Regions from separate parts of the Homo sapiens genome. Here region 2 is linked to region 1. Evidence: fine-mapped expression QTL. A gene starts in region 1. The other region holds a variant in brackets. All regions are shown on one strand. Distances are between the middles of the regions.

The links.
Region 2: its variant is fine-mapped to the expression of PABPC1L in whole blood (TOPMed, PIP above 0.99).

The regions. Positions count from the first base shown.
Region 1 is chr20:44,906,589-44,915,227 of GRCh38, forward strand. It overlaps PABPC1L (poly(A) binding protein cytoplasmic 1 like), which reads left to right and starts at 3,472. Exons shown (of 15, transcript NM_001372179.1): 1 at 3,472-3,748; 2 at 6,072-6,265. The coding sequence starts at 3,556. It overlaps YWHAB (tyrosine 3-monooxygenase/tryptophan 5-monooxygenase activation protein beta), which reads left to right. Exons shown (of 6, transcript NM_139323.4): 6 at 1-1,944. RefSeq lists a silencer at 3,326-3,655.
Region 2 is chr20:44,924,066-44,936,410 of GRCh38, forward strand. PABPC1L (poly(A) binding protein cytoplasmic 1 like) reads left to right here. Exons shown (of 15, transcript NM_001372179.1): 7 at 96-191; 8 at 6,395-6,661; 9 at 8,277-8,367; 10 at 8,992-9,120; 11 at 11,326-11,432. Among named protein-coding and RNA genes, the nearest start is that of PABPC1L, 20 kb to the left of the region's middle. The variant C/T (reference allele first, on the strand shown) is at 9,068.

The DNA.
Region 1 (8,639 bases):
ATAAACAGCTGGTATTTGTATCTAAAACTCAGATTGGTCACATAAATGCCACGGCATTCCGAAGTTTTGATTTTGATTAACATTGACAGGATTACTGTGTGTTTAATTTTTTAAAAACTGAACACTGTGATTATGGGGTTTTGTAATTTAGCAGAACTCTTACTGGTAGAAAAAATAGACCTGAATTATGTGTAACTTTTTGGAAGGTTTAATCTGATATCAAAATAATCATTGAAATACAATTCCATTGTAAAGTTGTACAGAAAGTTATAGAGATTATATTGTGATGCTGGAACTTGGAGTGAGACACACATCATTTGGCATTTGAGTTGAATGGTAATTCACAGTAATGCTGCCGTTGTTCGGGACTTAAAGACACTTGACCTGTTTGGGCTGTTGCCACTTAAAAGTTCATGACCACAAATGTCCACAGTGTCTTCCTCTGAGGAAACTCGAATCCTGAAATGGAAATTCTTTGTGGCAGATAACTGGCTTATGACACCTTGAAAAGTTCAAGTGCTCATATAACACACCACACTGAACCCCCTTTCCTACAGCAATATGTTCACTATGTTACCAATTTGCAACTTGTGCTTCAATAGTGGAATCTACTTTCATTGTTAACACTGAGCTAAAGAAAAAAAGCCGTGTGTTTTATGAATGACCTTATCTGTTTCCTGGATAATACCTTTAAGAATAATGTCCTGAGTCAGGCGTGGTGGTGCGTGCATCTAGTCCCAACTATTTGGGAGGCTGAGGCAGGAGGATCGCTTGAGCCCAGGAGTTTAAAGCTGCAGTGCCCTGTGGTTGCACCTGTGAATAACTGCACTCCAGCCTGGGCAACATAGCGAGACCTCATCTCCAAAAAAGAAAACAAAAAACAAAAAAAGGAATGATGTTCTGTAGAGATGGCCTTTCACTTGAGGAGTACTCAGTTTTCAGGTTCTTCCTAGCTCGGGGCTTTTAAATTTTGAAATCTAAACATTCTTTCCCACCATCCTTTTTGACTGTTGACCTTGGTTTTCTCTTCTAAGTTTCTGTCCCTCTGCTTCCTTACTTTTTTTCCTTTTTGAATTCTATCTTTATCTGTCTTTTGTTCACTTTTTAATGCTATATATGGGCAGGGGTGAGAGACATTACTGAGCACCTTGGTGAGCAAGCCTGGCTTTAAAGATTGGAGAAGAGCTTCTGGCACCAGAACCCTGTCTTCCTCCAGTTCTCAACACGGTGTTGCTCTTCAGTCATACCGGAATCTGAATCAAAAAAGTATTTTTAAATATCCATGATTTCTCCCTGTATTGAGGCTAGCCCTGATCATGCTTTTTGTGCCTGTCACCAGGTCTCCCAAGTGCACTCATCCAGGTCAGTGCTCAGATGTGTTTAAGGAGACCCTATATTCAGGGAAGTTGCGTGAACACTGCAGTGGGGAGAATTGAGAATAGTCAGGCCTATCAGTCTCACAGAATCACCCCTCTACCTTTGATATTCCACTTAGCTGTAGAGTCCATCTGTTTGTCCATCTGCTGAAATGAGAAAAGAAAAATTTATGCACTGATTTAAAACAAACCAAAAAAAAAGAAAAAAACAAAAAAAAAAATCCCTCCTTTCTAGCTGAACAAAAATGTGCAGTTAATACTTGGCGCTTGAAAATGCAGTAGTGAATGTGGAACCAAGCCTGTCTGTATATCTGGTAGCTCTTTTCTTGCTTTGTTTTTTCTTACCAGTATTCTGCCTAACGTTTGCTTCTGTGATGGTTATATTGCCTAGCAAGCACACCCGTGGTTGTGAAAATAGTATAGCAAAAAAGAAAAATCCCCGGTTATTGATGTACTAGATTTGTGTATGTCTTTTAAACAGTTCTAGTTTCACCTTACACAGAATAATCAGGAAAAGTGTAAAAATTCAAAAGTGAAATAAAAATTTTATCAGTTAGTTGCCTGTGAATTGATGTGTCACCACCATCTCTGTTGTTACCAGACCTAGCTAACTATTCTGATCACACTTATTTTTAACTCTGTTTTCTTTAAAAATAGGCAAACAGTTTTATTTCATTATTTAGGACCAGAAGTCAAGGTGTTATCCAGGGGAAGAAATTACCATTAATTAAACAGCCTCTTTACACCCGTTACTTGATACCTCTCTACCTTCCACAACAAACCATGCAGGTATTAGGTCCTCTTTAGTGACTTCTAAGATTTGGTATGGACAGTTATTTTGCATTGTATTCGAGCCCACCATCCCTTCCCCATTTTTTAACTCTGAGATACAACCAAGCCAGTGAAATAGGTAACCTATGGTTGCATAAGTCTTGGTCATCACCAAGCTGGCGTCTCACCTGTCCTCACACTGTATGGTGGCCTGCAGAGCTGGTTCCTCACAGGATTTGCCCCTTCTGAAAACATCCACATTACCACAAGGAGAGAAAAATATCAGGATAGAGGGGTCTTTTTTAGCCCAAGATTAGAATTAGTGCTTCCTTGCTACTCTGAGGCTGGACAGCCAGATGGGCACCTTCTGTCCCTAGTTTAGGAGCTGTTCCACCTGTTGAAGCCACACTCAACCAAAAGTCAGTGGGGGCCTACCTGCTCTGTTGGATCAGTGAGACCAGGAAAGTCCTATCAGAGGAAAAGTGAAGTATTGGTGCTCAGTGGAGTAGTTGTTTTGTTTTTGTGTTGTTTTTAATGTCCCTATACCACAGATTGACGCTGCAAGCTCAGATTCACAGTCTTGCTCTGTTTAGGTCTTGCTCTGCTATTAGTTCCCAATTGTCCGCATTTAGGCTGAGCCACAAGTAACTCAGTGAACCTCCCTGGTGTAATGGATGTGTAATGGCTTAGCAGAGGGACAGGGAATATCCCAGGAAAAGGGGTCTTGGTAATATGAGCCAGTACCAAGAAAGGCCTTAGTGGTCTCCAGTTCTCATGTCTCAAAGCCATTTCCATCCTTGGTGCGAAACGGTGGGACTGGATCAGGCTCTCTGGAGGAAGACATCTTCAATGGAGCAGGGTAAAATTCTCTACACAAGCTTTGAAACAGTGGCCTGTTCGGAATTCCGTTTGTGTGTGAAACGCAAAAAGCGCGGTTTGGGTCTCCTTTCATTCTTGTCAGGAGGGAATCATTCCCATTTTACAGAGAAGGGAAACGGGTTCAGAAAGATGATCATCTGTTCCGGGGTTAGAACTCAGTCCCCTGCGTCCTTTCCGTCCCAGTCCTCGGCTCTTTCAAAAGAGCTGGGGGTTTTGAGAGCTCCACTCAAGTCCCAGCAGCCCTGCTCAAGGCCAGGTTGAAGGCTTTTTCCGCCTCCCAGGGCGGGGTCAGAGGTGTCCCCACCTGTAGCTTTTAGATCCCCAAGTGCTCGCAGGTGGGGGGTGGGCCCAGGAGGGATCCCGGGGGAGGGGCGTCCGAGCGCGCCCACGATTGGTGCGCAGGGACGCGGGGGCGGTAAAGGGAAGGGGCGGGCCCGCGCCCAGGAAGGAGGGCTTCCGCCCGGGTGAGCGCGGGGCTGCTGGGTGACCCGGCTCCTGCTTGCCCCGCAGCCCCGGCCCCCTGCCCACCATGAACGCCAGCGGTTCTGGCTACCCGCTTGCCTCGCTTTACGTGGGCGATCTGCACCCCGACGTGACCGAGGCCATGCTCTATGAGAAGTTCTCTCCCGCCGGCCCCATCCTGTCCATCCGCGTGTGCCGCGATGTAGCCACCCGGCGCTCGCTGGGCTACGCCTACATCAACTTCCAGCAGCCCGCGGACGGTGAGCCCCGGGGATGGGGCGGGAGGGGAAGGACCGACGGACAAGCAGGCGGACAGACAGAAGCCGGAACTGGGCCGCTTGCGCTTTCATCTTACACTTTGCAGCCGGGGAAACTGAGGCTCAAAGATAACAGGGCGTTGGCAGAGGCCTGGCCCCTGAGACGGGAATTGGTAATTAGTGTGGTTTACTGCTATTCCTCTACAGAGGAGAGAGATTAGGGTCGAGTGAAAACAGATACAGGCTTTGTGGGGGTGGGGGTGGGGGTCAGGCGGACCAGGGATAGAAGCCCAGCAGCCGTGTGACTCTGGGCAAGTTACTCGACCATTCTGAGCTTCAGATGCGTGTCTGGAAAATGGGGGTCCTAGCTGCCTTATAGAGTGCTTGTGAGGATGAGAGATTCAAAGCACCTGGTGAGGAAGATGCCCAAGGCAACACAGCTGGTGAGCAGGGGAGGCAGGAGAACCCAGCCTTGGGCTCAGGCCTTTCCCAGCGCGACGTGAGATCCACACTGGGCGCCTCTACCTGCACGGGCTCTGAAAAACCGCTGCCTCCAGGCCGCAAGGCCGCTTTCTCAGAGCTGATAGCATTGATTAGAGCTTGTCCGATGAGTTTGCCTGCACTTCTGTTGAGAGTGGAGAGGATGAGTGAGCTTGGGCAAGCCTTCACGCTCTGCACCTTTTCATCTGCAAAATGGGGCTAAGGCGTATTCTCCAATAACATAAAGAATGGAGAACTGCTGTCTATGCATAAAGAATGGTAACTGCTTGTTACCTCGTAAACGCTCTTAAGTGGTAACCTAAAATAAATAAATAAATAAATAAATAAATAAATAAATAAATAAATAAGGCCAGGCGCAGTGGCTCACGCCTGTAATCCCAGCATCTTAGGAGGCCGAGGTGGGCAGATCACTTGAGGTCAGGAGTTCGAGACCAGCCTGGCCAACATAGCGAAACCCTTTCTCTACTAAAAATACAAAAAATAGCTGGGCATGATGGCGGACGCCTGTAATCCCAACTGCTGGGGAGGCTGAGGCACGAGAATCGCTTGAATCCGGGAGGCAGAGGTTGCAGTGAGCCGAGACTGCGCCATTGCACTCCAGCCCGGGCAACAGAGCGAGACTCCATCTCAACACAAAACAAAACAACAAACAAAAAAGAAACAACAACGAAAATAGTGGCTTTAACATTCTGATGTAAGACTCCAGAAACTCACCCAAAAAATGGCCGGCGTCCACTAGAGGGATCCCTTGCGCCAGGTCGCCTGGGTGAACCTGGTGGTTGCCTGAGTGGGTGGTTTGCTAGGGAAGGGGTTGTTCCGCCGGGCCTGTTCCCCGCCCCTTACTGGGCTGGATTCCTGGGCACTTTTCTGTTTGTTCTGCTTTGCTCCACCTCCTGCCTCTTCCCATCTTCCTCCAAGCCCTGTGAATGAAGTGGGACTCGGCCTGGAAACCGTGCTGCAGAGAGAAGGGTTTTGCCCCAGGTATTTATGATAAGACTAGGTGGAGAATCCGGGCTTCCTGAAACTTGCTCCACTGTGTTCCCCACAGCCCCCTTCCATGTCTCTGCACTAGCAGACTCCCTGAAACAGGTCACGTGTATCACCCAGGAGAGACACAGGCTGCAGCAGTGGCCGGAGGCTGGGCATCGGCTGCTGTTTTGAGACATTATTTTGTGTCAGGCACAAAGTTACAAACAAGGCACTTTTACATACCTTCTTTATTTTTCAGTCCCTCCAACAACCTGGTAGTTGGTAGTATCTCCCTTTGTTAGGTGTGGAAAAGTAGGTAATATTACCATCATTCCCCCTTTACAGGTGAGGAACAGGCTCAGAGAGGTAATGTCCACTTTCCCCAGAGCCGGACTGCTTGAGATCTAACCTCAGCTCTGCCCTGCAGCACCTCTGAGTTTTAATTTCCTCAAAGTGCTGCCACCCCTTGTCATATGGACATTGTTATCCACTCAGTGTACTTTAGAATCCAGAATAGACCTGACGCTGCCACAGACCTTTCATGTTTCTTATTCTCAGTTTTCCCATCTGTAAAATGAGGGGCAGGAATCCATGCTCATGTGGCTGCAGGGAGTTGGTTGAATGAGATCATAACTGGAAGGTTGGGGGAGCACCATACACACTAATTCTCAGCTTATCCTTCCTGAGCCTTTGGGCTCTTATCTCAGTTATTTGGGCTCTTATCTTGGCTTATTGTCTGGGACCCAGACAATGACTTTCTCTTTATTGGCTCCCAGTTAAGCACCTCGAGGGGTGGGTGATCAAGGTAAGAAAATTCCCTAAACTTGCTAATTTCTCTCCTCTTCCTTCTGTCCAGCGGAGCGGGCACTGGACACAATGAACTTTGAGATGCTCAAAGGCCAGCCTATTCGCATCATGTGGTCCCAGCGAGACCCAGGACTTCGCAAGTCAGGTGTGGGCAACATCTTCATCAAGAACCTGGAGGACTCCATTGACAACAAGGCTTTATATGATACCTTCTCCACCTTTGGGAACATCCTCTCTTGCAAGGTAGAGGATGAAGGGTGTACGTCTTTGGGTAGATCGGTGTCAACTACCTGCCTGGTAGAGGGGTGACAAGCAACACCTCACTTTACAGTTTACAAGGTCCTTTCAGTCAAGTTTCAGGTACAGCAAGCACCTGAATGACAGCCGTTCTTTCAGTTTCATCTTCCGTGAATGACCAGACATTACCTGTGTATCAGTCAGCTCTCGCTGTGTAACCACCTTCAAATTTAGTGGCCGTCAACAACAATCATTTATTTAGCTAATAATTCCACAGTTGGCAATGGGCAAAGTTCAGCTGGGCAGTTCTTCTGGTCTTGGCTGGGTTCCCTCCTATGCCCACTGAAAGCTGAGTGGGAGCTCTCGCTGGGTATATGAGGGAGCGACTGGCTGTCAGCTGGAACATCTTGGCTTTCCTCCCTATGGCCTTTTGTCCTCCAGTAGGCTAGTCCAGGCTATTCTCATGGTATTCTCATGGCAATGGCAGGGGCTCAGAAGACAAGAGTGGAAGCACACCAGGCCTCTTGAGAACTAAATGCAGAACTGGAACCATCACTTCCACTACGTTTTTTTTTTTTAATTGAGATGCAGTCTTACTCTGTTGCCTAGGCTGGAGTACAGTGGCATGATCTCAGCTTACTGCAACTTCCTGGGTTCAAGCCTCCTGAGTTCAAACGATTCTCCTGCCTCAGCCTCCCGAGTAGCTGGAATTACAGGTGCGAGCCACCATGCCTGGATAATTTTTGTATGTTTAGTGGAGACAGGGTGGGTTTCACTGTGTTGGCCAGGCTGGTCTCGAACTCCTGACCTCCCAAAATGCTGGGATTACAGCCATGAGCCACCGCACCTGGCCTCTTTCACTACATTCTATTGACCAAAGCAAGTCACAAGACCAGCCCACATTCAGAGTGAGAGGGGAGTAGAAATTATAGGATGAAGGGTGTGGCTACAGGAAGGCCATTAATTGGGGCCATCAAGGCAATTAAGTTATTGAATCTTGTTTTTAAGATTGTCTTACATTAGATGTAAGTTCCATCAGTGATCTTGTTCTTAGTCATTATTGTATCCCAATACTTAGAATAAGATGTGAAACATATTAGGTGCTCAATAAATATATGTTGAGCCAGTGGAGGTATGTCATTTGAGAAGGATTCTGATTATTTCTCTGACTTTTTATATGAGGATGTTGAGGATCAGCGGCCATATAGCAGGTCAGTATGTCTGGAACAGAGGGCTTAAACCTGGGTGTTCTGTCTCTAGATTTTATAAGGATAGTTGATCAGTTACCCCGTAGCCTTTGGAGTGTCTGCTATTCTAGGGAGGATGGGGACAGTTTTTGTAGCCTATGTGTCAGAACTTTTTTTTTTTTTTTTTTTTGAGACGGAGTCTCACTCTGTTGCCCAGGCTGGAGTGCAGTGGCGCGATCTCAGCTCACTGCAACCTCCTCCTCCCAGGTTCACGCCATTCTCCTGCCTCAGCCTCCTGAGTAGCTGGGACTACAGGTGCCCGCCACCACGCCCAGCTAATTTTTTTTGTATTTTTAGTAGAGACGGGGTTTCACCGTGTTAGCCAGGATGGTCTCGATCTCCTGACCTTGTGATCCGCCCGCCTCAGTCTCCCAAAGTGCTGGGATTACAGGCGTGAGCCACTGCACCTGGCATGTCAGAACTTTTATCAAGTGCTACTGTGTGCCAAGCATAATCCTTAAGTTCTCAACGAGGGCTCTCAAATTCCCAGTCAATAAGAGGCTATCCCTGTGGCTCAGAGGAGCAGGTAGACTTGAGGAGATGTAGTAATGCACTAAGGGTTATCTGTGACAGAGAGACGGGGCTGTTTCCTGTCTTTGAGGATCAAAGGAAGAAAGACTCTTAACTGTGTATTAAGTTCTTCACAATAATAATGGCAGATTTATCATGTACTTTCTGTGTGTTAGGTTTTCTGCATACATGTATACTCCTTAAAAGGGTACCTGGCATACTGTTAAGCTTCTAAGTGATAACTGTAACAATCAAAGAATTACTTCTGTTGGCTGACCTTGGACAAGTCATTTATTCTCATTTTCCCTCTGGGGCTCAGAGGTTAAGAAATGACTGAAAGGATTCTCTTATGACTGGCATAGATAACAAGGGAAGTATGTAATGCCCTTAGCAGGTTCTTGACCCACAGTGGGGACCCAGTCAACGTGGTTAAATCCAAGCTGAGGCTTGAGTTGAAAGTGGAAGGCCCCTGTTTCAGGATGAGAGGTGGAGGGGTATGTGCAAGGCATGGGTTTGGAAGCAAGATCTGTTGTGCAACACCCACTGGGGAGCCTCAAATGCCAAGTTGATATAGTTCTGTGGATAGAAGCTACTAGAGATTGAAGGGATGTGGTCAGAATTAC
Region 2 (12,345 bases), 19 kb after region 1:
CATGCCCCTTGTACCTGCGTCAGTTCCCTGATCTCCCCAAGGCAGTTGGGGCTTGGAGGAGAAGGGGACATCCAGCAGTTTCCCTTCCATCCCAGGGTGTGAACTTGTATGTGAAGAATCTGGACGACTCCATTGATGACGACAAACTGAGGAAAGAGTTCTCTCCCTATGGAGTAATTACCAGTGCGAAGGTGAGGACTGGGGGCACCTCCGGGGGACAGCGTTCCCCTCCATCCTCTCACCACCATCCCCCCACAACCCCACCCCTCCACCCTCTCGCCCAGCAGCCTTCAGGGGGTTGGTGCCGGCTACCCCTTCTGGGGCTCTGCTGACCCCGTTGGAGCTTGTAGCCATCTGCAGCCTTGTCTGGGCTGGAGGGGAAGAGGGTAGAAATATAGTCCCAGTCACACAGCTGGACTTGGGGCTCACTGTCACCTTGGCATTTATTGAGTGCCTACTGTATGCCAGATTCCAGAAATTCATATCTTAGTATTTCCATTGACTTTTGTTGTCTGGCCTCTGCCAGTGACATTACCCTCCTGGGCCTCCGTTTTCCCATCTGGAAAGTGAGAGGGCTGGACTTCGTCATTCTTCATTTGTTCTTCCCTATTTCTGGAGCACCAATTGTGTGCCCAACCCTGTTAGGCCCCTGAGATGTGGCAACTGGCCCATCAGCAGCTCTATGAGCTTTAGCAGATGTTGTCTTATAGATAAGGACACTGGGCTCACTGGATGGCTTTCCGACCCTGGCTTCTCATTACAACCCCCTGGGCAATTCTTAAATACACACACCTCAGTCAGGCATAGAATGTGGATCCCCGGGGTAGGGCCTGGGCTTTTTATTTTTTTTTTTTAAAGCTCCCAGAGGCTGGGCAATATGGCTCACGCCTGTAATCCCAGCACTTTGGGAGGCTGAGGCAGGCAGATCATGAGGTCAGGAGATCGAGACCATCCTCGCTAACACGGTGAAACCCCATCTCTACTAAAAATACAAAAAATTAGCCGGGCATGATGGCACGTGCCTATAGTCCCAGGTATTCCGGAGGCTGAGGCAGGAGAATGGCATGAACCCAGGAGGCGGAGCTTGCAGTGAGCCAAGATCGTGCCACTGCACTCCAGCCTGGGCAACAGCGAGACTCTGTCTCAAAAAAAAAAAAAAAAAAAAGCGCCCAGATGGTTTTTAAGATGATGATCCAGTGTTTCTTCATTCTATACTTAAATACCTGCTGTTTTACCAGGCTCTGTGGGAAACAGGAGCAAATCAGATGTGATCCTTGCTTTCAAGTAGCTTATAGTCTAGTGAGGAAGTCAGCCCGTCACTAACTCAAATGGATTATAAGATGGGGGACAGTATGGGAGGCAAAGCTACAGGAGTTCAGTGGAACAGAAGGGAAGGCTGCCTGGAAGAAGTGGCAGTAGCAGCAGTGTTTGACTTGGCTGTGAGGAGGTAGGGAGCTGGAGTGGGAATGAGGAATTTTCCAAAGAGATCAGTGTGAGTGACAGGATGGGGGGACCCGCCTGAATGATGTGATGTTGGGTTCTGAGGAAGTGGTCTAGAAGTTCTCTTTTGGCTACTGAGTCCAGTTGTAAACATCCTTCAGGGAGCCTTGTGTTTGGAGGAAAAAAGGTTGTCTTTTAGGTTAAGATCCTTTTGAAAAATGCGAGAGAAGGCTGTGGCACATGTAAATTAGGCATCAGTAAATTTGATTACACATCATAAAAAGCTATAGGTCCTCTTTCCAAGCAAATGCATATACATTTGATGTAGAAACATGGTTGAAAGCTGGAATTTTAAAGTTAATCAGGTTTAAATGTAAACCCCAGTCCTACCATTACCTAGCTGTAGAAACTGAGGCAAGTGGCTTTGCTTTTCGGACCTTGTTTACTCACCTATAAAGTGGGAGCAACATTTCTCACCTCTCCAGGTGTCCTAAGAACTACTAAAGAGGCTGCATGTACAGCATCTGCATTCAATAAGTAGTGAAATAGTGATTGTCGTAATGATTCATCATACACCTTGCATACAGCTTCAGGAGATGGACCTTCTTGAGGACTCCCCGAACAAAGGAAATGTGTAAATTTGGATTGCTTAGAGTTAAGGCACACCTGGGGTGACCATCTTTTTAACAGGACAAACGGTATAAAATGGGGATTATAAATATATCTATTTTTTGTGTGTGTGATGGAGTCTAGCTCTGTTGCCCAGGCTAGAGTGCAGTGGCGCCATCTCGGCTCACTACAACCTCCGCCTCCCGGGTTCAAGTGATTCTTCTCCCTCAGCCTCCTGAGTAGCTGGGATTACAGGCACCTGCCACCATGCCCAGCTAATTTTTGTATTTTTAGTAGAGACGGGGTTTCACTGTGTTGGCCGGGCTGGTCTCAAACTCCTGACCTAGTAATCCGCCCGCCTCAGCCTCCCAAAGTGCTGCAATTACAAGAATGAGCCACCACGCCCAGCCTACATATATATATATATTATACAATTATTTATTTATTTTGAGATAGAGTTTCCTTCTTGTCGCCCAGGCTGGAGTGCAATGGCGCGATCTTGGCTCACTACAACTTCTGCCTCCCAGGTTCAAGCAATTCTCCTGCCTCAGCCTTCTGAGTAGCTGGGATTACAGGCGCCCGCCACCAAGCCCTACTAATGTTTGTATTTTTAGTAAAGATGAGGTTTCACCATGTTAGCCAGGATGGTCCTGAACTCTTGACCTCAGGTGATCTGCCCGCCTTGGCCTCCCAAAGTGCTGAGATTATAGGCGTGAACCACTGTGCCTGGCCTATGTTATGCGATTTTATATATTTTGGTTTATTATTATTTTTTATTAGATGCAGGTTCTTATTCTGTTGCCCAGGCTGGAGGGCCATGATGTGATCATGGCACGCCACAACCTCAACCTCCTGGGCTCAAGTGATCCTCCCACCTGAGCCTCCTAAGTAGCTGGGACCACAGGCATGTGCCACCATGCCCAGCTGATTTAAAAAAAAATTTTTTTTTGGTAGAAATTGGGAGTCTTGCTGTGTTGTCCAGGCTTGTCTTGAACTCCTGGGCTCAAGCAGTCCTCCTACCTCAGCCTCCCAAAGTGCTGGGATTATAGGCATGAGCCACTGCATCTGGCCTGTATTTTGTTTTATATAAAAATAATTATGAAAATTAAAGGAATTAATGGATATAAATACTTATACCACTATCAAGTTCATGGTAAGCTCTGCATAAGTGTTAGCTTTGCTAAATTTTATCATTATTAACTACCGACTGCCAGAAGTTCTTAACAATATATATATATTTTTTTTTTTTTGAGATGGAGTTTTGCTCTTGTTGCCCAGGCTAGAGTGCAATGGTGCAATCTTAGCTCACTGTAACCTTTGCCTCCTGGGTTCAAGTGATTCTCCTGCTTCAGCCTCCTGAGTAGCTGGGATTACAGGCGCCTCTCACCATGCCCAGCTAATTTTTTGTATTTTTAGTAGAGATGGGGTGTCACTATTTTGGCCAGGCTGGTCTCGAACTTCTGACCTCAGGTGATCCACCTGCCTCAGCCTCCCAAAGTGCTAGGATTACAGGCGTGAGCCACTGTGCCCGGCCCTTTGGCTATCTGATGAAGCCTGTGGAACCCTTCTAAGAATATTTTTTAAAAACTTTTTTGAGACAGAGTCTCGCTCTATCACCCAGGCTGGAATGCAGTGGTGCCATCACAGCTCACTGCAGCCTCCAACTCCTGGCCTCAAGTGATCTCCTGTCTCAGCCTCCCAAGTAGCTGAGACTATAGGAGCACCACTATGCCTGGATAATTATTTTTTATATTACCCAGGCTGGTCTCAAACCCCTGGGCTCAAGCAATTCTTCCGCCTCTGCTTCCCAAAAATAGGCATGAGCCACCAAACCTGGCCCTAAGAATATTTTTAAATGCATAAAATAAGATTCTTAGGTGTACAAAAAAATCATACTGAAAAAATATAATGGTCAAAATACTAAAGTGAAAGCAGTATGTGCTTCTTTTATTATTTTTATTTTTATTTTTTTGAGACGAAGTCCCACTCTGTCGCCCAGACTGGAGCGCAGTGGCATGATCTTGGCTCACTACAACCTCTGCCTCCCAGGTTCAAGAACCTGGGTTCTGCCTCAACCTCCTGGGAAGCTGAGATTACAGGCACCCGCCACCATAACCAGCTAATTTTTGTATATTTTTAGTAGAGATGGGGTTTCACCATGTTGGCCAGGCTGGTCTCGAACTCCTGACCTCAGGTGATCTGCCCACCTTGGCCTCCCAAAGTGCTGGGATTACAGGCATAAGCCATTGCGCTCGGCTGAGATTAGCAATAATTAATGTGATATGAAAATATTTTCTTTTTCTTCATGACAAATTCATGGCTAATACTGCCAGGATTTTTTTGTTGTTGCCCATATTCATAATAGAAGGAAATGCTAATATGAAAATAAAGATGTCACTTTTTCCCCAATCCATGCAATTTCCCCCTAAATTGTATCCATGACCTACCTGAGGGGGATCCATGGACTCTCAGGTTAAGACCCCTCTACTGAAGGGTAGCAGAGTACAGTTTCAAAATTACTGATTAAGAGCGTGGGCTCACCAGGAGTTCAAGCCCAGCCGGGGCAACAGGATGAGACCTCATCTTTACAAAAAATGAACAAAATTAGGCATGGTGGTGCTTGTCTGCAGTCCCAGCTACTTGGGAGACTGAGTTGAGAGGATCACTTGAGGCTGAGAGGTTGAGGGTGCAGTTGAGCTGAGATTGCACCACTGCACTCCAGCCTGAGTGACAGAGTGAGATCCTGACTCAAAAAAAAAAAAAAAAAAAAAGAAAAAAAAAAAGGAAAAAAAGAAGATTTTAAAAATAACTCTAGTCCTTATGGGCTGTATGAGCCAGGCCGGTGTCTTCACCCTAAAAAAAGGTTAAAAACCCAGGGCCAGGTGTGGTGGCTCCTGCCTGTAATCCCTGCACCTTGGGAGACCTAGGTAGGAGGATCTCTTGAGACCAGCCTGGGCAACATAGTGATTGCTGATCTCTACAAACTTAAAAAAAAAAATTAGCTGGGTGTGGTGGCATGTACCTATAGCCCTAACTACTTGAGAGGCTGAGGCAGGAGGATCCCTGGAGCCCGGGAGTTTGAGGCTGCAGTGAGCTATGATCATACCACTGCACTCCAGCCTGGATGACAGAGTGAGACCCCATCTCTTTAAAAAACAAACAAATAAACAAAAAGACAAACCCTAAATGCCATGTGGGTTGGATCCTGGAAGAGAAAAAGAATATTAGGGGAAAAAAGAGTGAAATTCCAGTGAAGTCTGGAGTTCAGTTAATAGCATTGTAGTTAATAGGAGCTAATGGTATAAAATAGTTAATAGCATTGCACCAGTGTTAATTTTGTAGTTTTGAAAAATGTACCATGTTCACATTGGGGGAAACTGGGTGAAAGATATACAGCAGGCCAGGCATGGTGGCTCACGCCTGTAATCCCAGCACTTTGGGAGGCTGAGGCAGGCAGATCACTTGAGGTCAGGAGTTTGAGACCAGCCTGGCCAACATGGTGAAACCCTCTCTCTACTGAAAATACAAAAATTAGCCAGGTGTGGTGGCACACGCCTGTAGTCCCATCTACCCAGGAGGCTAAGGCAGGAGAATTGCTTGAACCCGGGAGGCTGAGGTTGCAGTTAGCCGAGATCGTGCCACTCCACTCTAGCCTGAGTGACAGAGTGAAACTATGTCTCAAAAAAAAAAAAAAAGATATATAGCAACCCTCTGTACTGTTTTTGTAACTTTTTCTGTAAATCTAAAGTTACTCCAAAGTAAAAAGGTTATTTTAACAAAAAGGCTAAGAACCTCTTCCCCAAATTCCTAAAGAACTTGGCTTGGTACTTAGCAGAGGCGATAGAAGCTTACCAGAACAATGTGTTGGGTTGAGTCCTGGCTAACGTATGAACCACAGGCTGAGTGACCCCAGACAAGTCACTCTTTCGAGTCTCTCTTATCCCGGCTGTAAAGTGGGAGCCGCGATGCCTCCCGCATCGGGAGGTTGTACATGTGAGGTGTGAAGACATGTAAAGTATCTGGCATGCAGCAGGCCTCATAGATGGGGGTGCGTGCTGCATCCCTCAAACAGCTCAGTAAACAGGGTGCACGCTACATCCCTCCATCACTCCTCAGTAAATGGGGGTGCACGCTACATCCCTCCATCACAGCTTGCTAAACGGGGGTGCACACTACATCCCTCGAACACAGCTTAGTAAACAGGGGTGCACGCTACATCCCTCCATCACAGCTTTCTCGCGGGCCTGCCCAGTGCTGGGCTTAGCCCATGGGGAGGAGGGAGGCAGCGCAGCCCCAGGAGCCTTCCTTCCCCACCCCAGCAGCTCTTGTCTTGTCTTGCTTTTAGGTGATGACAGAGGGTGGCCACAGCAAGGGGTTTGGCTTTGTGTGTTTTTCCTCCCCAGAAGAGGCGACAAAGGCCGTGACAGAGATGAACGGGCGCATCGTGGGCACCAAGCCACTCTACGTGGCACTGGCCCAGCGCAAAGAGGAGCGGAAGGCCATCTTGACCAACCAGTACATGCAGCGCCTCTCCACCATGCGGACCCTGAGCAACCCCCTCCTGGGCTCCTTTCAGCAGCCCTCCAGCTACTTCCTGCCTGCCATGCCCCAGGTGACGGCCTGCCCGCAACTCCCACCGCAGCCTTCCCCCCTGCCCCAGCAAGGCAGAGCATGAAGACTAGAGTTCTAGGGAAATGGAGGTTTCTAACTTGCTTCTGCCGAGGACTCATTAGGAAGTCTTTGTTTCCCTCTCTATAAAAGGGAGAGATAGTGTTAGTCAAATGGCATTTCCCAGTGAGAGAAGCTCGTGAATGTTGTGCTGAAAAAGACTCTTAATGATCCAGCAAGTTTGGGAAATGCTGCGTTAAGCAAGACCTACATTTTTCCTTCCTCCCTTCCTTCCCTTCCCTCCCTTCCCTCCCTTCCCTCCCTTCCCTTCCCTTCCCTTCCCTCCCTCCCTCCCTCCCTCCCTCCCTTCCTTCCTTCCTTCCTTCGTGGGGTCTCCATGTCACCCAGGCTGGTGAGCAATGGCGTGATCATGGCTCCTTCCTTCTTCCCTCCCTTCCTCCCTTCCTCCCTTCCTTCACGGGGTCTCCATGTCACCCAGGCTGGAGAGCAATGGCATGATCATGGCTCACTGCAGCCTTGAATTCCTGGGCTTGAGTGATCCTCCCACTGTAGCCTCCTGAGTAGGTGGGACTACAGGTGTGTGCCACCATGCCCAGCTAATTTTTTTGTTTATTTTAAAGAAGGGGTCTCGCCATGTTGCCCAGGCTGGTCTCAAACTCCTGGGCTCAAGCAATTCTCCTGCCTTGGCCTCCCAAAGTGCTGGCATTACAGGAGTAAGCCACCGTCCCCCGCCCTACATTTTTTTAAAAATTAAATTTTTATTTTTTTGGAGACAGAGTCTTGCTCTGTTGCCCAGAATGGAGTGCAGTGACACCATCTTGGCTCGCTGCAAACTCTTCCTCCTGGGTTCAAGTGATTCTTGTGCCTCAGCCTCCCGGGTAGCTGGGATTACAGGTGCGTGCCACCACACTCAGCTAATTTTTTGTATTTTTAGTAGAGACGGGGTTTCACCATGTTGGCCAGGCTGGTCTTGAACTCCTGACCTCAAGTGATGTGCCCTCCTTGACCTCCTAAAGTGCTGGGATTACAGGCATGAGCCACCATGATCGGCCCTAAATTTCTTTACTATCTACACTATTCTACCCTAAGATGCCAATGTCTACTGAGACTCTCCAAAACAGGCACAGATTATCCAGCATTTCCCCAGCTTAGATGGTCATTTTTTTGTGGGATGCCTGTTAACATCTCCCCTGGATGTTAATGTTCTGAGGAGCATGGTTTGGGAAAGGACCTCGTGGGACTTACAGGAAGTAGAAAGATGTCACCCATTAAAGGCCACCACGGTAAGAACATTCCTCTCCTTTTAGCAGTTGCTTAAGCTGCACAAGTTGGAGTAAGATGTCACCCTTTTTATCCAGGTCATTGGGTTAGCTGACAGGGAGCCAAGATTGAAATCTAAGATCTTTGCCCTGCAGGATTCAGGGCTAATGGACATCCTGAGATGGGAGGAAGGAGCTTTCATTACAGCCTTGTGGGTCTTGACTCACCAGTCCCTGCAGGAGCCAGTGGAGTTCCTGCCATGGTGTCCCTGAGGAGGTGTAGCTTCTCACCTACCCTGCCGCCAAGCCCCTCAGTCTGGGTCTTCTTTTCCCATGCAGCCTCCAGCCCAGGCTGCATACTATGGCTGTGGCCCAGTGACACCCACCCAGCCTGCCCCCAGGTGGACATCCCAGCCACCTAGACCTTCCTGTGAGTGACCCAGCCCCTTCCACTCTCAGACTGGCCTATTGGTGTGGGCCCCGTGAGGCAGTCATAACACAGGGATGAAACCTGGCTCTGCCACTTCCCAAGGTGGGTGACTTCACTTCTCTGAGCCTCAGTTTCCTCTTCTGAGCATGGGCCTGAATGAGACGTGTGTAAAGTACCAAGCACAGTGGTGAGCCAATGGAAGACACGCAGCTAGCCACCAGCAGTCATCACCAAAGATGCCTCTGATTTGTGACTCTGAAAATTCTTGCAAAGCTGAGAAGGTGAAATTCCTCTGGCTATATTGTTGACCAAAGGCCCTCCTCTGTAAGAGTGAATTGCACGCTCACTTGAAACTATCTTGAGGGACTAAGGTGTACAATCCTGGTGCTTATGCAGTTTGGGGCTCTAGGTAGACACGAGCTGGCTTTGAAATTGTAGATTCCTACACTCCCCCTTTCTGGAGTTCTGGGTCTAAGTGAATTGACTCCTATTTCTGTTGTGAATGTTGTAGTTTCCCTTCCCATTCTCTTGGTGGCCCTGGAAGCTTCTAGGCACAGTGTGCCACCCTGATTATTCCCACCACTCCATCCAACTTTTCTCTCTCTGTGGTGTCTGCACCACAAGCTGCCTACCCTCCAGGTGCCTCAATGGTCCGGCCACCAGTTGTGCCTCGGCGCCCCCCGGCCCACATCAGCAGTGT[C/T]AGGCAGGCCTCCACCCAGGTGCCACGCACGGTGCCTCATACCCAGAGAGTAGGTGAGTGTGGGTAGGGCCAAGGGGAATGGGGGTGGGGCAAAGTTGGCACTAGGAGTCAGGACCAGCCTCCATGGTGACCTTGCCATATGCCCTCTCGGTGAGCAAAGCTGACTTTGGAGACTGTAGCGTGGTAGTTAGCTTGGCCTCCAGTTCCTGGGACCAACTGACTATGAGGCCCTTGCTGACTACTATATCTGTCACCTAATCTTTAAAATGGGGACAAAAATAGTACCCCCATTTTATTGTAGAGAATTTAAATGTTTTTTTTTTTCTTTTTGAGGCAGAATTTCATTCTTGTTGCCCAGGCTGGAGTGCAATGGCATGATCTCTGCTCACTGCAACCTCCGCCTCCCAGGTTCAAGCGATTGTCCTGCCTCAGCTTCCCAAGTAGCTGGGATTGTAGGCATGCGCCACCATGCCTGGGTAATTTTGTGTTTTTAGTAGAGACGGGGTTTCTCCATGTTGGTCAGGTTGGTCTTGAACTCCTGATCTCAGGTGATCCGCCCACCTCAGCCTCCCAAAGTGCTGAGATTACAGGCATGAGCCACTGTGCCCAGCCTTAATTTTTTTTTTTTTTTTTTTTGAGATCGAGTCTTGCTCTGTCGCCCAGGCTGGAGAGTAATGGTGTGATCTCGGCTCACTGCAACCTCTGCCTCCGGGGTTCTAAGCGATTCTCCTGCCTCAGCCTCCTGAGTAGCTGGGATTACAGGCATGCGCCACCATACTTGGCTAATTTTTGTATTTTTAGTAGGGACAGGGTTTCACCATGTTGGCCAGGCTGGTCTCGAACTCCTGACCTTAGGTGATCCACCAGCCTCGGCCTCCCAAAGTGCTGGGATTACAGGCATGAGCCACCATGCCCGGCTTGTTGTTGAGGATCAATGAGATCATGCATGAAAGGGCTTAGCACTGGGCCTAAAGCCTGGTAAGTATTGCAGTGACTATAAACAAGGGTGTAGGTTTTGGCTGTACAGCAAGCACATCTGTTCTTTCATTCTGCAAATGTTCTCACATCCACAGTGTGCTGGGGCCCCAAGCTCAGCACTGGAGGTTCTGCGTGAACGAGGTATACTCAGTCTCTGGCCTTAGGTTGCTGCCAGGCCCTGACACCCCTGCTTATTCCTTTTTATTGTGGTAAAATACACATAACAAAATTTACCACTTAACTATTTTTCAGTGTACAGATCAATGGCATTAAGTATATTCACACTGTTGTGCACTGTCACCACCATCCACTCTCCAGAACTCTGTTCAGCTTGTAGAGCCGAAATTCTGTACCCATCAAACCATAACTTCTCGTTCCTCCTCCCGCTAGCCCTTGGCAACTGCCATTCTACTTTGTCTCTGTGAATTTGACTGTTCTTGCTTGGTACCTCATGTAAGTAGAATCATAGAGTATTTGTCTTTTTGTGGCTAGTTTTTTTACTTTACATGTCTCAGGATGTATCTATGTTGTGGCGTGTGTCAGAATCTCCTTATTAAGGCTAAATAATATTCCATTGTATGTATAGACCTCATTTTTACTTATTCATTCATCTATCAATGGACACTTTTCTACCCTTTGGGTATTGTGAATAATGCTGCTGTGAAAATGGTTGTGCAGGCTGGGCGTGATGGCTTACGCCTGTAATCCCAGCACTTTGGGAGGCTGAGGCAGGTGGATCATGAGGTCAGGAGTTCGAAACCAGCCTGACCAACATGGTGAAACCCTGTCTCTACTAAAAATACAAAAATTAGCCGGACGTGGTGGCATGTGCTTGTAATCCCAGCTACTTGGTAGGCTGAGACAAGAGAATTGATTGAACCCAGGAGGGGGAGGTTGCAGTGAGCCGAGATAACACCACTGCACTATAGCCTGGGTGACAGAGCAAGACTCTGTCTCAGGAAAAAAAAAAAAAAGAAAGAAAATGTTTGTACAAATAGCTCTTTGAAACCCTGCTTTCAATTCTTTTGGGTATATACCCAGAGGTAAAATTGATGGATGATATGGTAATTCTGTTTAACTGTTTGAGAAAGCCCTATACTGTTTTTCTGTAGTGGCTACATCATTTTACATTCCTACCAACAGTGCACAGTCTTCTAATTTCTTTACATTCTTGTCAACGCTTGTTATTTTCTGTTTTGGTGTTGTTTTGTTTTGTTTTGTTTTTGGATAGCAGCTATTTGAACTCTGCTTTTTTTGTTTTGTTTTGTTTTGTTTTGCAGCCAACATTGGTACTCAGACCACAGGACCCAGTGGGGTAGGATGCTGTACACCAGGCCGGCCGCTCCTGCCGTGCAAATGTTCCTCAGCAGCACATAGCACCTATCGGGTAAGGCCAGCCCAGCTGCCTGCTCTTAGCCTGGGCTCCTGGCCGCCTGGCTCAGAACCTTAGCTAAGGTGTTGGGCCTTGGCTTTTTTTCTTTTCTTGGCTTGTAAAGTTTCGTTTATTAATGTGTACAATCAATAAGAGATCACCCTTACTGCGAGAAGGGGAAAGAGGGCCAGCATTACGTTTTATTTACAATTTGTTTTGCTTCGGTTATTACCAAAATTAATTTGGATATCCTTAGTATTTGTGATGAACACCAAGGAAAGGTATTCTAAGAATATGCTGATTATTGAAGGGATGTACTTAATCTTCAAAACAGAAAATACTTACTGTAATCAAAGACTGTGTATTTATCTCCCTCCCCTAAAAAAGGCCTAAAATTCAGCATTATCATATCCTGTGTAGAATTTCAATGTGTCTCTTTTGAACTATTTCCTGCAAAATGAATGAGAACAGTCTTTAAACAGCAAAAATGTCTATTTTTTTTTTTGGACAGGGTCTTTTTTTTGACAGCACCCAGGTTAGAGTGCAGTGGTGTGATCATAGCTCACTGCAGCCTTGAACTCCTAGGCTCAAGTGATCCTCCCACCTCAGCCTCCAAGTACAGGCATGTGACACCATGCCTGGTTAATTTTGTGTATTTTTTTGTAGTGACAGGGGTCTCATTATGTTGCCAAGGCTGATCTCAAACTCCTGGCCTCAAGCGATCCTCCCACTTTGGCCTTCCAAAGTTCTAGGATTATAGGTGTGAGCCACCACACCTGGCCAAAATGTTTTAAAATTACCAAGATGTGAAAGGGTGAGAGGTGTGCCGGGGACATGTCCATAAATCTACTTGATAAAAAGTGCTTTATTTGGCACAAAGTTATTGGTAACACAGGGCTTTCCTTTATCAACGTTCATCAGGGACCTT